3 separate regions of the Homo sapiens genome follow, and regions 1 and 3 are each linked to region 2. Evidence: fine-mapped expression QTL. A gene starts in region 2. Each other region holds a variant in brackets. All regions are shown on one strand. Distances are from middle to middle.

Region 1 (6,444 bases), 100 kb before region 2:
ATCCCAGAGGGGCACCCGCCTGTATGAGGCATCTGCCAGCCACTACTGGGAGGCATCTCCCAGTCAGGCTACACGAGGGTCAGGAACCCACTTGACGAGGCAGTCTATCCATTCTCGGAGCTCAAACACCATGCTGGGAGAACAACTGCTCTCTTCAGAGCTGTCAGACAGGGACATTTAAGTCTGCAGAAGTTTCTGCTGCCTTTTGTTCAGCTATGCCCTACCCACAGAGGTGGAGTCTAGAGAGGCAGTAGGCCTTGCTGAGCTGCGGTGGGCTCTGCCCAGTTCGAGCTTCACAGCAGCTTTGTTTACCTACTGAAGCCTCAGCAATGGTGGACACCCCTCCCCCGCCAGGCTGCAGCCTCACAGGTTGATCTCAGGCTGCTGTGCTAGCAGTGAGCAAGGCTCCATAGGCGTGGGACTTGCTGAGCCAGGCATGGGAGAGAATCTCCTGGTCTGCCAGTTGCTAAGACCATGGGAAAAGTGCAGTATTTGGGTTGGCGTATCCTGTTTTTCCAGGTATACCTTATCACAGTTTCCCTTGGCCAGGAAATGGAAATCCCCTGACCTCTTGCACTTCCCGGGTGAGGCAATGCCCTACCCTGCTTCGGCTCACCCTCTCTGGGCTGCACCCACTGTCCAACCAGTCCCAATGAGATGAACCAGGTACCTCAGTTGGAAATACAGAAATCACCCATCTTCTGCATCGATCACGCTGGGAGCTGCAGACCAGAGCTCTTCCTATTTGGACATCTTGGTATGGACCAATGTATTTTTAACTTTTATCAAGTCTAATTAATCCATTTTCTTTTATGTTTAACATTTTGATTTTTTGTGAAGTTTTTAAAACATATTATGGTAAAAAACATAACATTTACCATCTTAACCATTTTTCAGAATAAAGTTCTGTGGTGTTAAGTATACTCATACTATTGTGAATCAGATTTCAAAAACTTTTTTGTCTTGCAAATCTGCAACCATATACTCCTTAAACAACAACCTACCTCTTCCCCGTCTGTCCAGCCCCTGGTAACCACCATTCTACTTTCTGTCTCAATGAATTTGAATAATGCAGATAGCTCATGTAAGTAGAATCATACCGTGTTTATGTTCTTGTGACTGGCTTGTCTCACTTAAAATAATATCCTTCAGGTTCATCCATGTTACAGCATGTGACAGGATTTCCATCCTCTTTAAGGCTAAATAATATTGCATTGTATGTATACGCCACATTGTATTTATGCATTCATCTGTTGAGAGACATTTGGTTTGCTTCCACCGCTTGTCTATTTTGAATTGTGCTGCTTATGACCATGGGTGTACAAATATCTTTTCAAGACCCTTGGATCATATGGTAGTTCTATTTTTAATTTTTTGAGGAACCGCCACACTGTTTTCCACAGCAGTTGTACCATTTTACAATCCCACCAATCGGGCACAGACTTCTGATTTCACCACATCCTTGCCAACACTTTTTATCTTTGTTTTTTGTTTTTTTTCTTTTCCTGATAGTAGCCATCCTAATGGATGTGAGTTTGTTTAATGCCATTATGTTAATATAACTCAGATTGGATTGTGTACATCCAAGTTTTCTGTGCATAACAGTTTTTCTGGAAGCAGAAAGAGACCTAGTGGAGAATTAGTGACATAGAGGAGGTGGCATAAGTATACTAGGGCTTTAATGGAATATATTCTTGAGAAATTATTACACCAAGGAGGAGACTATACTAATGTATTAATTTAGCTATAACATGGAATTAGGTTTTGTTAGAATTTTCAATTACTTTCATCAATATTTTTCTACAACAGTTGGCATTGCTAGCCTATGAAACACAGTATGTTAGTGTACAATGAGCAGAAGGTTTGGAGCTTGAAGGTACAGAAGTCAACTTCTCTGGCTCAGAAGTGCTTACTGTCTGTGCCTAACTACACTGTTAAGTACATCTGGCCATCTAAGCCCATTACCATCTGTTAGTGATCCACCTCTTAGTGTTACTCACTCAGTCACTGGACTGTGCCAGCCCCTTGTTCACCTCACCTTCCTGCTCATCTACATTTGCTTTAAAATATGACCGACTATATAATCATACCTGTTTTCTTAATCATTTCTAAAACTAGCCTTGCTAGCTGGTGCTTCTCAACAAAGCTGCAACTTGCTTTGTGCCAGAATGTTATTTGTAGATCTGTTATTTAGCAGTGTCTGCTTAGTGATCATTTTTAGGTTTGCCCCAAGCAAAATAAATTTGAATAGCAAAGAACATTTCTTCATGCATTTGATCATGATTGAGAATGGGCTACAGTAGCACTTAAATACTTGGTAGACTTTTATCAGTGATGGTAATGTGGCAAGATCCTGAAATATACCCTTTGGCACAACCAGAATGTAACCCCCTCAAAATGTAACATTAATGTATTGAGCATATACTTTATATATTCATCTTTGGATTCTTACTAGTTTACTTCTCCTTACCTCAAGTAAAAAATCTTTATACAATAAACATAGTAGGTAAAACAGGCTAAGCATGGTGGCTCATGCCTGTAATCCCAGCACTTTGGGAGGCTGAGACAGGAGGATCACTTGAACCCAGGGATTTGAGACCAGTCTGGGCAACATAGTGAGACCCTATCTCTACAAAAAATTAAAAAATTAGCTGGGCATGCTGGTGCACACCTGTAGTTCCAGCTATTCAGGAGGCTGAGATGGGAAGATCACTTGAGCCCAGGAGGATGAGGCTGCAGTGAGCTGTGATTGCACCACCACACTCCAGCCTGGGTGATAGAGTAAGGCTCTGTCTCTAAAAGGAAAAAAAAAATGAAAACAGACTATCTAGGTTTGTACCCTGGCTCTGCCACTTCTCAGCTGTGTGACTCAGGCAAATTACTTGATCTGTTTCTGTCTCAGTTTCTTTATTGGTAAATGAGGATAGCAACAGTATGTACCTTATAGAGGTCCTGTGAAGGATCAGGTGTAAAATGTTTGTGGATAGCAAGTGATTAATAAGTGCTAGCTGTTTATTACTCTTCTAATTATAAAAATTACATATCTTCATTGTTCTAAAAATTCAACAATATAACAAATTTAAAAAAATAAAATAAATCCCCCAAATTATTCCATGACTGTTAGCATTTTAGTGAAAAATCCTTC[C/T]GGTCATATTTCTTCGTACATGTGTGATGTGCAGAATCTGAAATTTATAGCACAGGAGGAAAAATTACAGTAAGCTCCACTGGTGCCTCCAAGAGGGATGAGTTTCATATCCTTCTTTGATATTCACTTATTTAGTGTGGCAGTCAACTGGTCTTTCAGACAACAGTGCCTATGACCATCAAAACAGAGTGGGCAGTGGTCTGGCTTCTTCACTGAAGTTAGGGTTAGGAAGATTTAGAATCTATGGGCAGTAGATATCAACCTCTGCACTATTTCGGTTTTTATGAGGGAAATCTTGTGATCTAGTGAGTGTTGTGTATGTGAACAATGGAAGAATCCGCCCCTAAAGAGCTATAATTTGGGAAGTCAAGGGCTACTTTGGAAAGTAGTGGTACATTTGAACCCTCAAGTTCTCCTAGCAATGACAAAGTGTGCTCACTTAGACAACTCATTTAAGAGTTCTGTCATTTGGAGCGAGACTCCATCTCAAAAAAAAGAAAAAAAGAATTCTGTTATATAAGGAATAATCTAACTTTGTACATTCCAGCAAACTAAACCCAAAGCTAGTAGAAGGAAGAAAATAATAAAGATTAGGCTGGGTGAGGTGGTTTACACCTGTAATCTCAGCACTTTGAGAGGCCCAGTTGGGAGGATCACTTGAGCTCAAGGAGTTCAAGACCAGCCTGGGCAACACAGCAAGACCTTGTCTCTACTAAAAAGAAAAAATAAGCTGGACATGGTGGCATGCACCTGTAGTCCCATCTACTTGGGAGGCTGAGATGGAAGGATCCCTTGAGCCCAAGAGATCAAGGTTGCAGTGAACTATTGTCATGCCACTGTAGTCCAGCCTTGAGACAGAGGGAGACCTGTCTCAAGAAAAAAAAAAAAGAAAGAAACTAAAAGTTGGTTTCATGAAAAGAGATGTGAAACAAAATTGACATGAAAGAACGTCATTAAGGAAAACTATTTTCTGCTGAGCTGAGTAGAATAGAACTAGCGTTATAATTTGAACAGTAAAGGAAATTTGAATTTATGTTATACCCAGCCAAATGAAGAGGACATACTTATTACTGATCTTGTGACTCATTGTACATAAATGGGATCATGCTGCTTTATATATGCTGCTTTATAACTTGCTTTTTCCCTCTCAATAGTATGTTGTAGAGATCTTTCCATGAAGTAAATGTATAAATGTATGTCTGTATCATCATTTTAAAAATTTGTTCTGTGCTGGGCACGGTGGCTCACGCCTGTAATCTTAGCACTTTGAGAGGCCAAGGTGGGTGGATCACGAGGTCAGGAGATTGAGACCTTCCTGGCCAACATGGTGAAACCCTGTCTCTACTAAAAATACAAAAATTAGCTGGGCATGGTGGTGCGTGCCTGTAGTCCCAGCTACTCAGGAGGCTGAGGCAGGAGAATCGCTTGAACCTAGGAGGCGGAGGTTGCAGTGAGCCGAGATTGTGCCACTGCACTCCAGCCTGGGGACAGAGCGAGACTCCATCTCAAAAAAAAAATAAAAAAATAAAAATAAAAAAATCTGTTTTGCAGCATTCCATTATGTGTATAGTATAAACTGCCCCACAGATCAGCATATAAATAGAGTGATGGTCTGTGTTTTTGTTTTTTGTTTTTTTTTCCCCCAAGTAAATAGCTATCCGCATCCTCTAGATTAACAGAAGGTTCAAGATCTCTTGGTAGAGCTTCCTACTCTTCTGGAACTGGCTGAAAGTCTAGGGCCTTACATAGTCTAAAAGGTATGTCATTTGACTTCTATTTCCCAGCACAGTGGTGTTGCTTCTCCTCCCTTTGTCCTCCCCAGTTCTTCCGCTGATATCTTGTGCATATGGTCTGACCCAAGATCTGTTCTGCCTTAGTTCCCAAACTTTATAAGATTAAAGAATTATGAAATAATATCAAATATACATATCTGAAAGGATTTAGTAACATTTATCTTCCCAATCCAGGAATCCTAATATAGTTTAATGAGTCTCTGGGTTGCTCTCAAATCTCCAAAGACAATACATTCCAGTGATCCATTTTGATGCCCCTGAGCTGTGGTGTTCCCTCCTCTCAGCCTGAACTCCAGCTACACTGCCTTACTCTTGCCAATGCCCTCTTCCTGGAGACTTCGTATCTGTTCCCTGTCTGGTGACTGTAGCTTGACTGATGGGGCCCTCAAAAGTCTACTTGGATTATGGCTGAGCTCGTCCTTCAGATATAATGCCTTGTGTGCTTGGTTTCTCCACCTGTCAGTCCAAGGAGTCCTAAGTGATGACTGAGATATGTCCCTGGCAGAGAATACTAAGCAAGATAGTTTGATCAGGAAAAAGAATAGATCTTCAGGTCCAAAACTGAGCAGGAATGTTCCAGATTCTTGTTTTTCTCTTTTTTTCTTTCTTCCCCAACTTCCAGTTTGCTGTGTCAATTCAGCTCATTCTGACTCTAGACAGTTTCTTTTTAAGGTTTGCCTACCTTTGCCTCACAGAGAAAAGGTGCTCAAGAATGACATGGACAATTAGGGATATGAGGACCCTTAGGGCTGTGAGGATTGTTAGACATCATCCAACCCAATCCCCTTATTAGAAATATGAGAAATACCAGGCTCCCAAGTGTCTAATGATTGTACAGCTACTTAGTGTAGCTAAGTGGTAGAGTAAGGGCTTAAACTCAGATCTGGACTTATATGCTCTTTATGGTTACTTGATGAATTGAGTTAGCAAGAATTGCCAAAGAAGTTCTTATTTAAGCAACAATAAATGCTATCTATAAGTCAGGAGCTGGGCCAAATGCATTTATATTACCTGATTTCATCTTCGTACTACTCTATGAGAGGCTTGAAGAGTTTTAGTAATTTGCCAAAGGCTACAATGGATTATAAGTGGTGATGCTAGGATTTGAAATTACATCACTGGATGCCAAATCCAGGATTCCTAGAGGAAAAACTACTGTTGCTCAGTCTACCTATGCTTAATCTCACAGGTATGCTCAAATACTCATTGTAAAAACTGAATGAACAGTTCCCTCTCTTCAACCACACTCAGCGAAAAGAAACATTATTTGTTCATGAAAGTCAGGGATTTCCCTCCTGCTAGGGAACTGGAGCTTCTAGTCCTTGGCTACTGAAAGTGTGGTCCTTGCACTAGAAGCATTGGCATCTACTTTGAGCCTATTGGAAATGTAGACTATCAGACCTTACCCCAGACCTCTAAAAATACAATCTGAGTATGGATACAGCATTATCATTTTCTAGGTAGCTACCAGACGTCTCGATTCCATCTATTAAAAATTATATTTTC
Region 2 (6,444 bases):
CCAGGCTAGTCTCGAACTCCTGTCAAGTGATCCTCCCGCCTCCCAAAGTGCTGAGATTATAGGCACGTGCCACAGTGCCCAGCTCTTCTGGTATTCTTACACAGGGGCTTGATTAATAAATGTATTTGCTGAATAGGGATCGAGTTATTTTTGCGTGTATGTGATTTTCCTGTTCCTGCCATTAGATGGCAGTGCTCAAACTTAGTAGTACAAAGAAATTCCAGGTTTTAAAAATTAAATAGGATTCTGGGTCTGTGGTCTTATCTGCTTTGAAACAATATTGCCTTAGCATGCTATAACACAAACTACCAAACGACCTTGTTTGTTCACTGCTACTATATGAAACTTCTCTTTCTGTATGGACCTCTTTGGTGTGTGGAAGAAAGACTTTCATTAAAGTTCTGAACCTTAGCCTATGCAGTCAGCTAGCATTTACAAATTATCGTGTAGAGCAGATTTGTGATTATCTAAATCTATGGCATTACCTACCAAATGTATAACTGTTACCAGTGCTACTGTGCTACTACCTTAATATTTGAAAGGTTAATTATCTCTTTTTTTTTTTTTGAAACGGAGTCTCGCTCTGTCGCCCAGGCTGGAGTGCAGTGGCACAAGCTCTGCTCACTGCAAGCTCCGCTTCCCGGATTCACACCATTCTCCTGCCTCAGCCTCCCAAGTAGCTGGGACCACAAGCGCCTGCCACCACCCCCGGGTAATTTTCTGTATTTTTAGTAGAGACGGGGTTTCACCATGTTAGCCAGGATGGTCTGGATCTCCTGACCCCGTGATCTGCCCGCCTCGACCTTTCAAAATGCTGGGATTACAGGCGCGAGCCTCCGAACCCGGCCGATTAATTTTCTTTTAAAGCAAAGAACAGTAGAAACTTTATTCGATTTTCTATTTTCTCCCAACTCCCATTCTCTTTTGTTTTTGAAGAACAGCAGAATGAAATGAGCTCCAGGACCCATCCAAGTAGGATATGATGGTTTGAACAGATTCCAGCATGGAACAAAGTTTCCATATTTTGCCTGAAGTCTTTCATTCATATGATTCTTCTAATGCTTCCTGGAAAATTCCAAGAACTTGATGTGAAATTATGCTTAACAGAACACCCAATTGGCCTATGGCAGGTGCATTAGTCCATTCTTGCACTGCTATAAAACAAAGAGGTTTAACTGGCTCACGGCTCCGCAGGCTGTACAGGAAGTCCGACGGCTTCTGCTGGGCTTCTGGGGAGGCCTCAGGAAGCTTACAATCATGGCAGAAAGCCAAGGTACAGCAGGCACGTCTTATATGGTGGGAGGAGTGGGGCGGGGGTGGGGGGGCGCCACACACTTTTAAAGAACAGATTTCACCAGAACTCACTATCACCAGAATGGCAAAAACAGGGAAATCTGCCCCCATGATCCAACGACCTCCAACACTGGGGATTACAATTCCACATGAGAGGTCAGGTGGGGACATAGATCCAAACCGTATCAGCAGGGTTAGAATAACTTTTTTGTTTTCCTCCTAAGTGTTGGGCTTATTCGTAGGGAGAGTATGGTAAGCCAAATAAAACTATAGTATACATAGTATTTTTCATATAGTATACATATTTTTATATGTAATATGAAAATAATGTGTCCAAAGGAAGGTGAGTGGAAACTACAGCAAAATACCAGAGTCTTTCTTTAGAAAAGGACAGCTTCTATTTTGATGTAAGAGTATGGCTCCTCATTAGCCCTAACTTGGACTACAGAATGACTTCTTCTGAGCAGAGCTTATAGGAGAAAATTTTGATAATAAATCAGGACTGATGACGTTTTTGTTTTTTGCCTGAGAATTTTCTCAGAGTTTCTCTGAGAAACTGTATCACAAAATTCCTATTAGATTGCTCTTATGTAGACAACTTGAAATTATTGGCAATTTCCAATTTAGCAAAATGTTGGCTATAATAACTTAGTGAATTACGACAATAACCCGTTTCTCTTAGGTTTCTGATATTTAAGTGTCCTTACAGGAGAAAGATGAAGTTATCTTATAATTGTCCAGCTCAACTGCTCATCTTCTTAGCATAAACACTGATTTGGAAAATACTTTGCGTATCACACGTAGGAGCCTGGGAATGTTCTCATCCGAACTAAACAGTGGTTAAAGGTTTTTCAACAAAGTTCTTGCTGCAATATCTGTTTTCATACCCAATTACTCAAACCAGGTCCTCTTCCTCTTTGCTTCCTCTCCTTGCAATGCCCTTCCCTCTCTTCCCTAAACTGGAGAACTTACTTATGCTTAAGATTCAGCGCAATTGTCACTCCCAGGTGAAGGCTTTCTCAACAAGGCCTCCCCGTCTGCTCCCAGAGCTCATGGCAAGCAGCTCGGCTTTTATCAGAGAATAATGGGATTATCTATTTTCCTGTAGGTCTTGCCCCGGGGGTGTAAGCTTCGAAGGCGGAGACTGTGTCTTTTACATTTTTTCCCGTTTTTATTGCCCAGCCAGCCCATGTAGGTGACTCTCGGTGTTTCCTAGGCGGCCAAACTGAAGGAGTTTCAGCTGGCACAGGGGTTCCCGCCAACCGAGCGTTTAAAAATAAGCAGCGGGGGACGTTAGGGAACAGAGGGTGTCCCTCACGACGACCGACTCTCATCAGGTCCACGCCGGCAGAAGCGATTTTGCAGTTTGCTTTGATGAGGAAAACGCTCTCCCTGAAGAGTCCCTGCACTATTTCTCCAACTCTGTGACCGAGACGCTGTCCACTTTTCTCTAACGGTGACAGGAAGTCAAGGGGAAAACGTGGGATTCAAAGGTTTGAAGGTAACAGCCCTCAGCCACTCGGGCTCGAGGCCCGCGGTTGACCCGAGCTGATGTCTGTGAGGAGAGGTCGCGCGGCGCCTTCCTCTCCACGCGCCTGAGATCCCACCCGTGGCCGCCGCGCCCTCAACTGCCTTCTCCTTCGGTGCCCCGCCCACCCCTGGGCGGAGAGCACCGTTCTCGCGAGAACGCTGCTGGCCTCGCCTCTTCGCATTGTGAGCTCTCGCGGTAAGAGGCTGAGGAGCCGGCCTGCAACCTGCCGGGGCGGCTCCGCTACGCGCAGCCGCCTCAGTGGCTTCCTCCACAGCCACCTCCGGAGGGATCTGGCTGAGGAGGAAGTGGAGGTGTCACTGGCCCCGGCCTTTGCCCCAATCTTGTGTGGGCACTGAAGGGGGACTACAGGTTCGAGAGTGAGTGGACTCAGCTGGGGAACTCGGCGGGGGCGGCGCGGGAGGCTGGGCTTGGCCGGGGCGAAAGAGGAAAGGGGCGGAGGGCGAATCTGGGCGTGAGAGCCAGGCTGCTGCGGCGGTGGTCTGGGCGGCCGGACCCTGCTCGGGTACCGTGGGTGGCGTTTTGGGCTCCGGCCACGAGCACCCAATTAGGAGAGGCCGGGATAAGACTTGAGTTTTGCGGCTGCTGCTTTTGGGTTGGGAGTCCGGGGGCCTTTCTCCGGGGATGAAGGCGATACCCTCATCCCTTTCCAGGGCAGAGGAACCCCGTGCCCCGCCCCTTTCCTGTCATCTCAGACGAACGCAGCGACATCCTGAGGAAGGCGCATCACAATAGGGGATAAGGTGGTGGGCAGCCTCCCTCTGGGTGAAGAGGAGTGAGACCCCACTAACGTGCTGCGTGGTTTTATGTTGTAACCATTTTACGTGTGGTAAAGCTTTGTTTTCTTAAAACTTGCACGGAAAAGGTTCTGATGTCTTTCTTCTTCAGATGCAGGTGCCCTGACACCCTTATCTTTGGGAATGGGGCGGGGGAAGGTGAGACATCGGTTAGTAATTTGTTAGTGTGGGCCAGTGTGACTGTCCCTGGGCCTCACAGATTTCCTGCTTCTCCTTTCTCAGTATTCTGAGTCCATGATGAAAAGTCACTAGTCCAGACATGCTGAAAGATAGAGCTTCACTTGCTTGTGGCTTTGTGCACTTAGTAAACAAGATTATTTTACGAAGATTTATTATCTTGCAGAGTTTTCATGCTTTTTATTTAAATTAGCAATCTAAATGAAACAGCACAGGATATTAATTGTATTTGGACAACTGAGTTCCTTCCCGCCCCTATCCTCCCAACCCCCCAACTACACAAATTTGATCAAAATCTTTTAGAGAGGGGGTTAGGGATAAATTTTCAATGAAAGAGACTGTGGAAATCGGAATAAGAGATATAATAAAGAATGCAGCCATAACGGCCAAAAGAGTTTCTGTATTAGAGAGCCTGTCCAGGATTGAAGTTCAGTCCTGAAACCCAGGACTGCAGTTGTCATTTGAATATAAAGCGGAAAGCAGTAGAAAATACTTGGGAAGGGATTTGAAAGTGGACCAAGACTGGTAAAAAAAAAAAAAAAAAAAGTGTGAGAAGAATTATTTCTGATGATGTAAATGTGTTTTATAAATTTTCCCAATATTTCTCAGCGTGTATGACCTAACAGCTATTATATTAATACATACAAAGTAGGAAGGAAGTTTCTGAAGCATGGAATGTGGTAAGGAACCACCAGAGAGTAACAGTGTTCAATCAGGAAAGCTTTTAGTGTTTCAACAATGTTTTTGTGTTCGTTCACCTTTTTTCTCACTCCCAGAAAAGCTTTCAGATAGACTTCTAACCCTATGTAATTATGTTACCCTTCCACCAGTCTGAATTTTCTTCTTTCTCACTCCCTCTAAGCCATGTGAATTTTTTAAATTATTAACTATGGAGTTGCAAACCACTGTGGTCTGCTTTTGGCTTTTTATAATAGGTGACTTAGGGAAGTATGGAAGTGATATGGAAAATATTGTGCACCTTTCAAAGCCATAGCATGAGCAACAAACTCACATGCCTTCGGGTACTAGTTAGATAATGAAAATGAGGGAAATGCACTATGCCTTATCAGAGAGACATCCAAGTCTCAGGTCCCCCTAATCAGTGCTATATAAGAATATGGACCCCATCTTCAGCATTCTCAAGAGAACTCGGAAATCTAGATTTTTGCATTCAGTGTCTTGCGTCTTAAAAATATTGACAACTAATTAAAACCATTAAAAATATCATGTGACTGAATCAAATCCAAACCTGTCCATAGTTGTATTCTCCTCTCCAGTTTAGAAGCTCTGTTATAAATCAAAATTAATAAATTTTATGACTGGAAAAAAAGGAGGTTTAAAGCAAGTTTGGAGTTTCAAACTTAAGGGGTCTTGGGAAAAATGTCACATCTAATTGAAAACAGTAGTTAAGTTTAATAGCCTTTAAGTATAGTTATAGTAGGGCAATTTGAACTGGTATTTACTATAAACGTTTTAACTGTGGAAATAACTGAAGAAAAAGCATCTCAGTATTTATGGTTTAAAAACTCAGAGTTCTGAGCAAAGCTGATTTATAGGTATCTTGTACAGAAATTGAATTATTTAGAAGCTCTTTATTGTATTTGCAGCTAATATATAAAATTAAATACAAGAGACCCTCTACAGTCCATTTCAGGATTTGAATGTTTATTGTTTGCTGTGCTATCCCACATTGTCTTCCTAGGCATTGACTTACTGGAAGAAATACTGATCCCTTGGATTTTATTCCATGCCAGATGGAGATTGGAGGGGTTTGGCAACAGGATGGAAAGAACTGGGTGGAGAAAGTGTGATGTGAAGCAAACACTCTTGTGCCCCTTCCTTACATTGTTCATTAAAAGATTGATTTGTGTTAGTTTTTCTTGTAAGAAGGATAGGTATATTAATTGATTAAACTTAGTGCCTTATACATAGTAGAGTTTAATGACGTGTGGAATTGACCTTTGTGGATTAAGCCTCATTTACCCATTAATGTGAAGTAATTTAATCACATAATCTGATTCATACCTAGTTGGGTTATGGGGAATGGGAGTGCTAGAGGTCAAAGCTAAGTAAGAGGTGTTTTTTAGGCATATAGAGGGCAAGTTGGGGGTCTTCACTTGGGATAAGGGTGAGAGAGGAAGTTAGGTAAGGGAGAGAATTTTGAAAAGGAAGATGAAATGATTAAGTACCCATTTGTGTATTGTGCAGTTTTAAAAAGAGGTCTGCCTTTTGTGGCTAAATTTATCATAACTTGTGCAGAGACTACATAGAATACTGGTTTTTAATCAGGACTGCTATGGGAATTTGCAGATTTTCTTTTCTTCATTTTAGCTCAGTCATCTCAGGCCAAGCTAGGCTAATATCTGTTCATTCAATCTCTGCCTCTCTCTGAAATAGGAAATGAAAGAAGAGGAGATATGTATTATGTTTGTGAGGTGCTCCTGTTGAAGAGTTATAAGACTACTTCTGAGGAATTTGTTTTATATTTGAGAAGATTGTGCTTGTTGAAGGGGGAACCATTATTTTCGTCTTTACTTGTTTCTACCATGACTCATAAAGTAGGAAGTTCTTTTTTGGAAATAGCTTTCCGCTTCTTCCCATCCCCTGAGTTGCCATCCCAAAGGAGGA
Region 3 (6,444 bases), 82 kb after region 2:
TATCTTGGCACTTAGGATGGATCTTTTACCCTTACATGATTTTGAAATACCTTGCATTGTTTAGTTACAAAATATTGGTTCACTGAGTTATGCAGATCTTCTATATATTGACACATTTCATTATAGAGCATCAAAATATCACTATTATTAATACTCCCTATCTCATCAACAACATTTTTTAAGTTTTAGGAAGATCTCAAGGTCAAAGTAGCAGAGACAAGTTTTCTAAAAATTCCAATTTTTGCTTGAAAGCTCAGATTTTATCATTGGCAACAAATGTCAGTCATTTTCCTTAAAGTGACAGGTTCACTTCATTCATTTCCAAAAAAAAAGTATTCTAAATACCCAAAACCGAATGACCATATACAATAAAAATGGTGTCCAATGAAAATAGTAGCTAGTTCAACTCACAACTTAATCACACAAGTAGTTTTTGAGACAAACATCATACTTTGGTATGCAGCACAAGTTCTGTGTACTTCTCATTTTGTCACAGAGCATTAAAAAGATGTGTGCTTGAGAATTTTATAAAAGTAATGATGGACATTTTCCCTCCCTCCCTCACTCCCTTCCTTCCTTTCCTCCTTCCCTCCTTGATAGGGTCTCACTCTGGTTGCCCAGGCTGGAGTACAGTGGCACAATCTCAGCTCACTGCAGCCTCAACCTCCTGGGCTCAGGTGATTCTCCCACCTCAGTCCCCGGAGTAGCTGGGATTACAGGTACACCACCACACCTGGATAATTTTTTTTGTATTTTTTAGTAGAGATGGGATTTCTCTATGTTGCCCAGACTTGCCTGGAACTGCTGGACTCAAGCAGTTTGCCTGCCTCAGCTTCCCAGAGTGCTGAGATTACAGGGGTGAGCCACTGCACCTAGCCATGATGGACAATCTTAAATGAAACTGGCTTTAAACTATTTTTTTACTGTGAGTGTGTGGTGGTGAAGAATACAATGACTACTAGTATAGTTTGGTGCCACTTGTCTGATTTTTGTAAAATGCCAGCAATTTTACCCAACCGTGCTTTTAGTATGAATAGTGCACATTATCAATACAGGGAAAAAATTAACGTTTTAATGTTATTAAGAAAATAGCTTTAACCTTGCAGACCCTTAAAAGGATCTTGTGCCCCCTCTCTTTCTGGAAAAAGACTGCAGATGACATTTGTAGAACTGCTGCTTTATCTGAATTTTCCTTAGTGCTTCTGGATGTCTGTACTCTCTTGCGACCTATGGAGGCTCACTTAGGCTTCCTTTTTAGCTTGATCCTGACAAACAACTGCAGGCTAAATGGTTCATTTTTGGACCTTCCAAATTTGAAAGTGACTGGAAAGGGCTGGGTATGGTGCACCATTTAATACTGCTGTCAGTTTTAACTGTCTTGTTTAAGCTGCTTTTCTTATAAGTCCTGCTGCCCAGGACTCATCTCGTGAGAACACATCCAAATTTCTTCTCACAGATCCATTTTATAATCCATTCTTCTCAAAGAAAAGGGAGAATTTTCATAAGTGCCTCAAAAATAGCTGGGGCTTTATGATGCAGAGCACAGCTTTTGATTTCTGGTAGTTGTTGATGTGAAAAGAATTGGAAGCCATGAGCCCAGGATTGTAGCCTGGGGGCCATACTTATAAAACGAACGCTGAGGAGCCTGGATCTTGTCACTATAATGTTGTGAAGGTGAGATGAGACAATGTATATGAAAGTTCTTTGAGTAATATTTAAGCCTATACTGGACTGATAACCTTTCAAAACCAAGAAGTAGAATCCTTGGTAATACCAGGAGTCAAGTCAAGTGCCTAAAAGTTAACTTAAGAAGCAGAGACTGGAAGACCACCCTAAGAAGATGGTGGATCCAATATGCAGGAAGGACCTGGAGGTATAACAGAAGAACAGCTAAGAAGACAGCTGGCAAGCAGTGTGTGTGTTGTGGGCAGGGGGGCGGGGGTCACGGGACACCAAGCTCAGACTTCATCTGTCAGTGGTATTTTGGGCCAAGCACTTTCACATATATTATCTCACAGTAGGACCTCGTGCAAAGATGCTGGCTACCCTAACCATTATTAGCTCCATTATAAAGAAAACTAGGGCTTGAAAGTTGTACAAGTTCACATAACTAGCACATGGCAAGGCCAAGCTTCGAACCCAGGTCTTACTTTGTAGTCTTACCCATTAATTTGTTAACTTTCAACCTTTTTTGGGGGGAGCAAAACGCTTTTTCAAATAGAAATGTTTGCAGAAGATTCCTGTATAAAAAAGAAGTATTGCTGCCCTTGTAGAAGCAGGATTTCTACTCTTACCCTCTCTCCTTAGCAACTATCCCCACGCCCATCCCACCTGGTAACACCACAGCTCTTGGTAACCTGAACAAACCTCCGAGGAGCTCAGTTTTGAAAATCCTTGCCCTGCTTTTGATGGTTTGTGCCCTAGGAGTCCTGCCTATGGAAATTCCTGATATTCTCTCTCTCTGTTTTAGGAGATGGGGAAAGGAAGCCATTGTGTCCAAAATGATGGCCTTTAAACTGTCCTAAGCTCTACTGGCATCAGGCAATATAAACAGATTTATAATTTACGATTAAGATGGGCCTAGGCTTATAAGTTCTCCAGCAAAGATGAAAACAAATGACTGGTTCCTAAACCTATTTATAGTGTAGTCTTATAGCAAGCTCTTCATGAGGGCTGGTGATTGATCCACTGCTTGGATCCAATGCTGTCACACCAATGGAACCCCCAGGCAGCAGATCCCCAAGTATTCTGCAGCTATAAAGCATGGCTTGATTTCCAAAGCACTGCTGGTGGCATTGCTGTTTCCATTGCCTGCCCTAGACACTAATATTTTCTCCCTTGAAAATTCCTGGCAGA[A/G]AATGAGAAACTTTTCTATGTGAGGTACTCAATAATCTTTCCCTCATGGGAACTCTTGAATTGCTCCCTCAATTAAATGAACTGACAGTTCCCCATTCCTTATTCTTTCTCCCTTCTTCCACTCACATGGAAGAAAGCCTCTGAGGATGTCAGCAAGCCTCCCTAGCCCTACCAGTATGCTTTGTATCCAGCCTCACACAGATGCATTTACTTCAAGGAGGAAGTAGTCCAAATTGTTTCAGCAATCGCAGTTGCAATTCCATACTCCCACCCCCAACATTTCAGATCTTGGGCAAGAGGTTCTCTAGCTTAGGCTAAGAATCATCAGTCTTACCTTCTTGCCTCCTGGAGAAGAGGCATCAGGGGGAGGCGTACTCGTGATGTTCAATGGGCTGGAGCCACAGCTAGAAGGCGATGACCCTCTTATCCTGTCAGAAAAGAGAATTACACTGCCTTTTCTTTTTTCAGTGGAGTGTATGTGCTTTGTTAAGGGGTAAAGGTGAGAAAGGGGATGAAGATCTAGATTAGGGTTTGGCAAGCTTTTTCTGTAAGGGGCCAGATAGTAGGCTCTCTAGGCCATATGGTGTCTTGTCACAAATGCTCAACTCTGCCTCTGCAGCTTGAAAGCAGCCACAGATACGAATCGGTGTGGCTGTGTTCCAATAAAACTTTATTTACAAAAACAGATGACAAGCTGGATTTGTTCTACAGGCACCTGATCTAGAATGCAGTCCCTAGAGTCAAGCATCTCACTGACAAAGCCCTTGGATTGGAGTTTGCATTCAGTTGGTGAATTTCAAGTAAGTGGCCAGTTTTATTTCCTCACAGAATCCAGGTGAATTGGAGGAGAACTTCTAAGATCAACCTCCATCTTTGATCCACAGAAAACAATTTGTCCCCTTCTCCACAAACACTGTTTAGCTAGTGAATACTCTTAGGACATGGACGGCACCAGGGTCTAAAAGGTAGCCTAGTAGTAGTGACAGGAAAAGCAGCCTTCGAAGGCAGTGGTTGATGAAAAATGGGTCCAGGCCTTTCTTATCTAGCATATCTCTCAGAAGATTTATAGAAGGGAAGACTTAGAACTGTAAATCCACCTAAATACTTGTCAGGCTGAAGGACCTCAGGAAAGAATCCATCACTTGGCATTGCAGCTACAGTTTAGGGAGAGTGTGATGGCAGTTGTGTAACCACAGGACTCTCAGCTCCTACATGGATGAATGTAGCTTTTGGGTGACCCAGAGACCACTCCTCCACCACCCAGAAGTCTTTTGGTTCTTGTACTGCCTAGTTCTCTAGATTTATGAGTGAACAAGTTTTCTTTCTGGATTAGAAGCTTCTTAACGGCAGTTTACAACTACATATCATGTATTCTCAGCATGCACAAACGGCTGCTAATTGCTTACGGAAAAATTGCTGAGTGTCCCCCACCTTTCTCTACTTATGTCTATGAAACCACTATTTTCCCAGGTTTCTCATCTTGGAATTGCTGTTTCATCATTCCTGATTTCATCTTCAAACGCTAGACCTTAGATGATTGATTTCTCTTTTGGCAGTGTCATCTCTGTAGGATAAGGCCTCATTCCTGAGTTGTCAAACATGCCCACCTTCATCTCTCCCTATTCCAATGCAACTTCCACAAAGCGTAACACAAGACTTTGGATGCTTGTTCAGCATCCTACAACAAATGGGGTCTTACAGGTTTCTTCCAAACTGCACAGTATCATTTCTTGTGTTTCTTAATCGCCTATCATAGCTCTGTGTCTCCTTCCTACACAAAGCCTGCCCAGTTAGGTAGCTTGTTTCTTGACCCTGAATTTGCCACTCACATGCCCACTCAAGAATAGCCCTGGCTTTTCTAGAGGGAACATCCACTCTTATTGCAAACCCTGGCTAAGGCCAAGTTCAAATCTTTCCTCTTTTGCTTGCTTTGGCCCATGCACCCTCCCTTTTTCCTGTTATCATAAAGAAAATAGACTTATAAAAGATTTTAAAATTCTTGAGGTCAAGGACTGTTTGATACTGTTCTTGGATGGTCTCAAGCAAAATACAGGGTATGCAAATGCAAAGTATAGGGTTTGAACCTGATTACACTGCACACTACCCTCATGTCTCCTTCCTGATGCAGAAGTCACACCCACTAATCCTGTGGGGTTGGAAAAGAGCTGTGTTACCTATAGGGGGATAACAGCCCCTTTATGGCCAATTGGAAAACAGGCCAGCCTCTAATTCTCCTGAGAGAATCCAGCGGCAGCAGTGTTTTCTTCCTTTTCTTATGTTACATTAAGTTTCGTTCTGAAGAATCTGGTTACCACCTTCTCTATTCCCCAAATTTGGACAGACTTATGATAACTGCTTCCCTCTCGACTGCTCTTAAAGACAGATTTAATTAATTTTTAAGCACTCACTATATGTCAGGCTGTGTTCCTGGAACTTTCCTGAGTGCCCTCACAATCCTAACACAATTCTTGGGAAATAGTGCTTTCTTTTTATGGTTTAAATCAACAGAGAGCAAGAGGTTAAGTAAGTCTCAGCATAGCCAGGTAGAGAGACAGGCCCAGGACTCAGACCCAGGTGGACTGCTTCTAAGCTCCTTCTCTTTCATATGGAAAGGAAGTCTCTCCCAAGACAGCTAGTAATAACTAGCTGATCTGCTTGGTTTCTAGTACTAATCCTGGGCAGCTCTTTGATTGAAAAAAAGTGAATGTTTTGTTAAGGTCCAGATCACTCTGATAGTTCACAGCTCTACTCCTGCATTCCTGTAAAGTAAAGGTACATCTATCCGCACTGAGAAGCTCCTTGAGCCATAAGAAAGTTAAGTCTTCTCAAGAATTCTCTTTAGCGCTGGGCTATTTTGGTTTAGCTTCTTTATTTAAGGCAGGATTTCTTAATCTAGGCACTACTAACATTTTGGATTGGATAATTCTTTGTTGGGTGGGGAGGAGGGAACTGTCCTGTTTACTGTAGGATGTTTAACAAGCAGCATCCCTGGTCTCTATCCACAGGATGTTTAAGTAGCAACCTCCCACCCAGTTGTGAAGACCAAAAATGTCTCCTGACATTGCAAAATATTGCCTGGGGGAAAAAATTTCCCTGGGTTGAGAACCACTGGTTTAACAGAGGAACTAGAAGGTGTTACTTGCCTGTGGATTTCCATGATTTCCTCAGCAATCATTCGGCCTATTTTTCCTGCCCCAGCCCGGGTTCCCCCTGGAATCCCTGGAACAGTGGGGTGGGTCCTCTTTGGGCCACCTACAACAAAGGAATCTGAGAGTAGGAAAGGGGAAAACTGAGGAAGAAATACTATTATGTATTAAAGTAAAACCAGTTTATCCCATGATCCATTTGCAGTTCAACATCAGAGTTGTGCCTTGAGGGACTTTAGGGCTACAGCTTGTCAGGAAAAGGCATTCCAGCAGGGAAAGGCTCAAGTTTCCTTCTAGGATCTGAGGCCAGTTTTTTCCCTTCATACAGCATCTAATTCTTTCCCTTCATGCACTGAAAAAAAACGTTTATTGAAGACCACTGTATGTGCCAGGGTTACAGAGACAAGTCCCTGCCCTCAAGGAGCTCACAGTTTAACAGGAA

Evidence for each region.
Region 1: its variant is fine-mapped to the expression of BTBD10 in whole blood (INTERVAL, PIP 0.99).
Region 3: its variant is fine-mapped to the expression of BTBD10 in blood mononuclear cells (TOPMed, PIP 0.91).

What each region holds. Positions count from the first base shown.
Region 1 is chr11:13,564,165-13,570,608 of GRCh38, reverse strand. No RefSeq gene overlaps it. Among named protein-coding and RNA genes, the nearest start is that of PTH, 71 kb to the right of the region's middle. The variant C/T (reference allele first, on the strand shown) is at 3,146.
Region 2 is chr11:13,459,849-13,466,292 of GRCh38, reverse strand. BTBD10 (BTB domain containing 10) reads left to right here and starts at 3,071. Exons shown (of 9, transcript NM_032320.7): 1 at 3,071-3,201. RefSeq lists an enhancer at 2,702-2,891.
Region 3 is chr11:13,378,001-13,384,444 of GRCh38, reverse strand. It overlaps BMAL1 (basic helix-loop-helix ARNT like 1), which reads right to left. Exons shown (of 20, transcript NM_001297719.2): 17 at 6,000-6,108; 18 at 3,191-3,284. Among named protein-coding and RNA genes, the nearest start is that of BTBD10, 82 kb to the left of the region's middle. The variant A/G (reference allele first, on the strand shown) is at 2,857.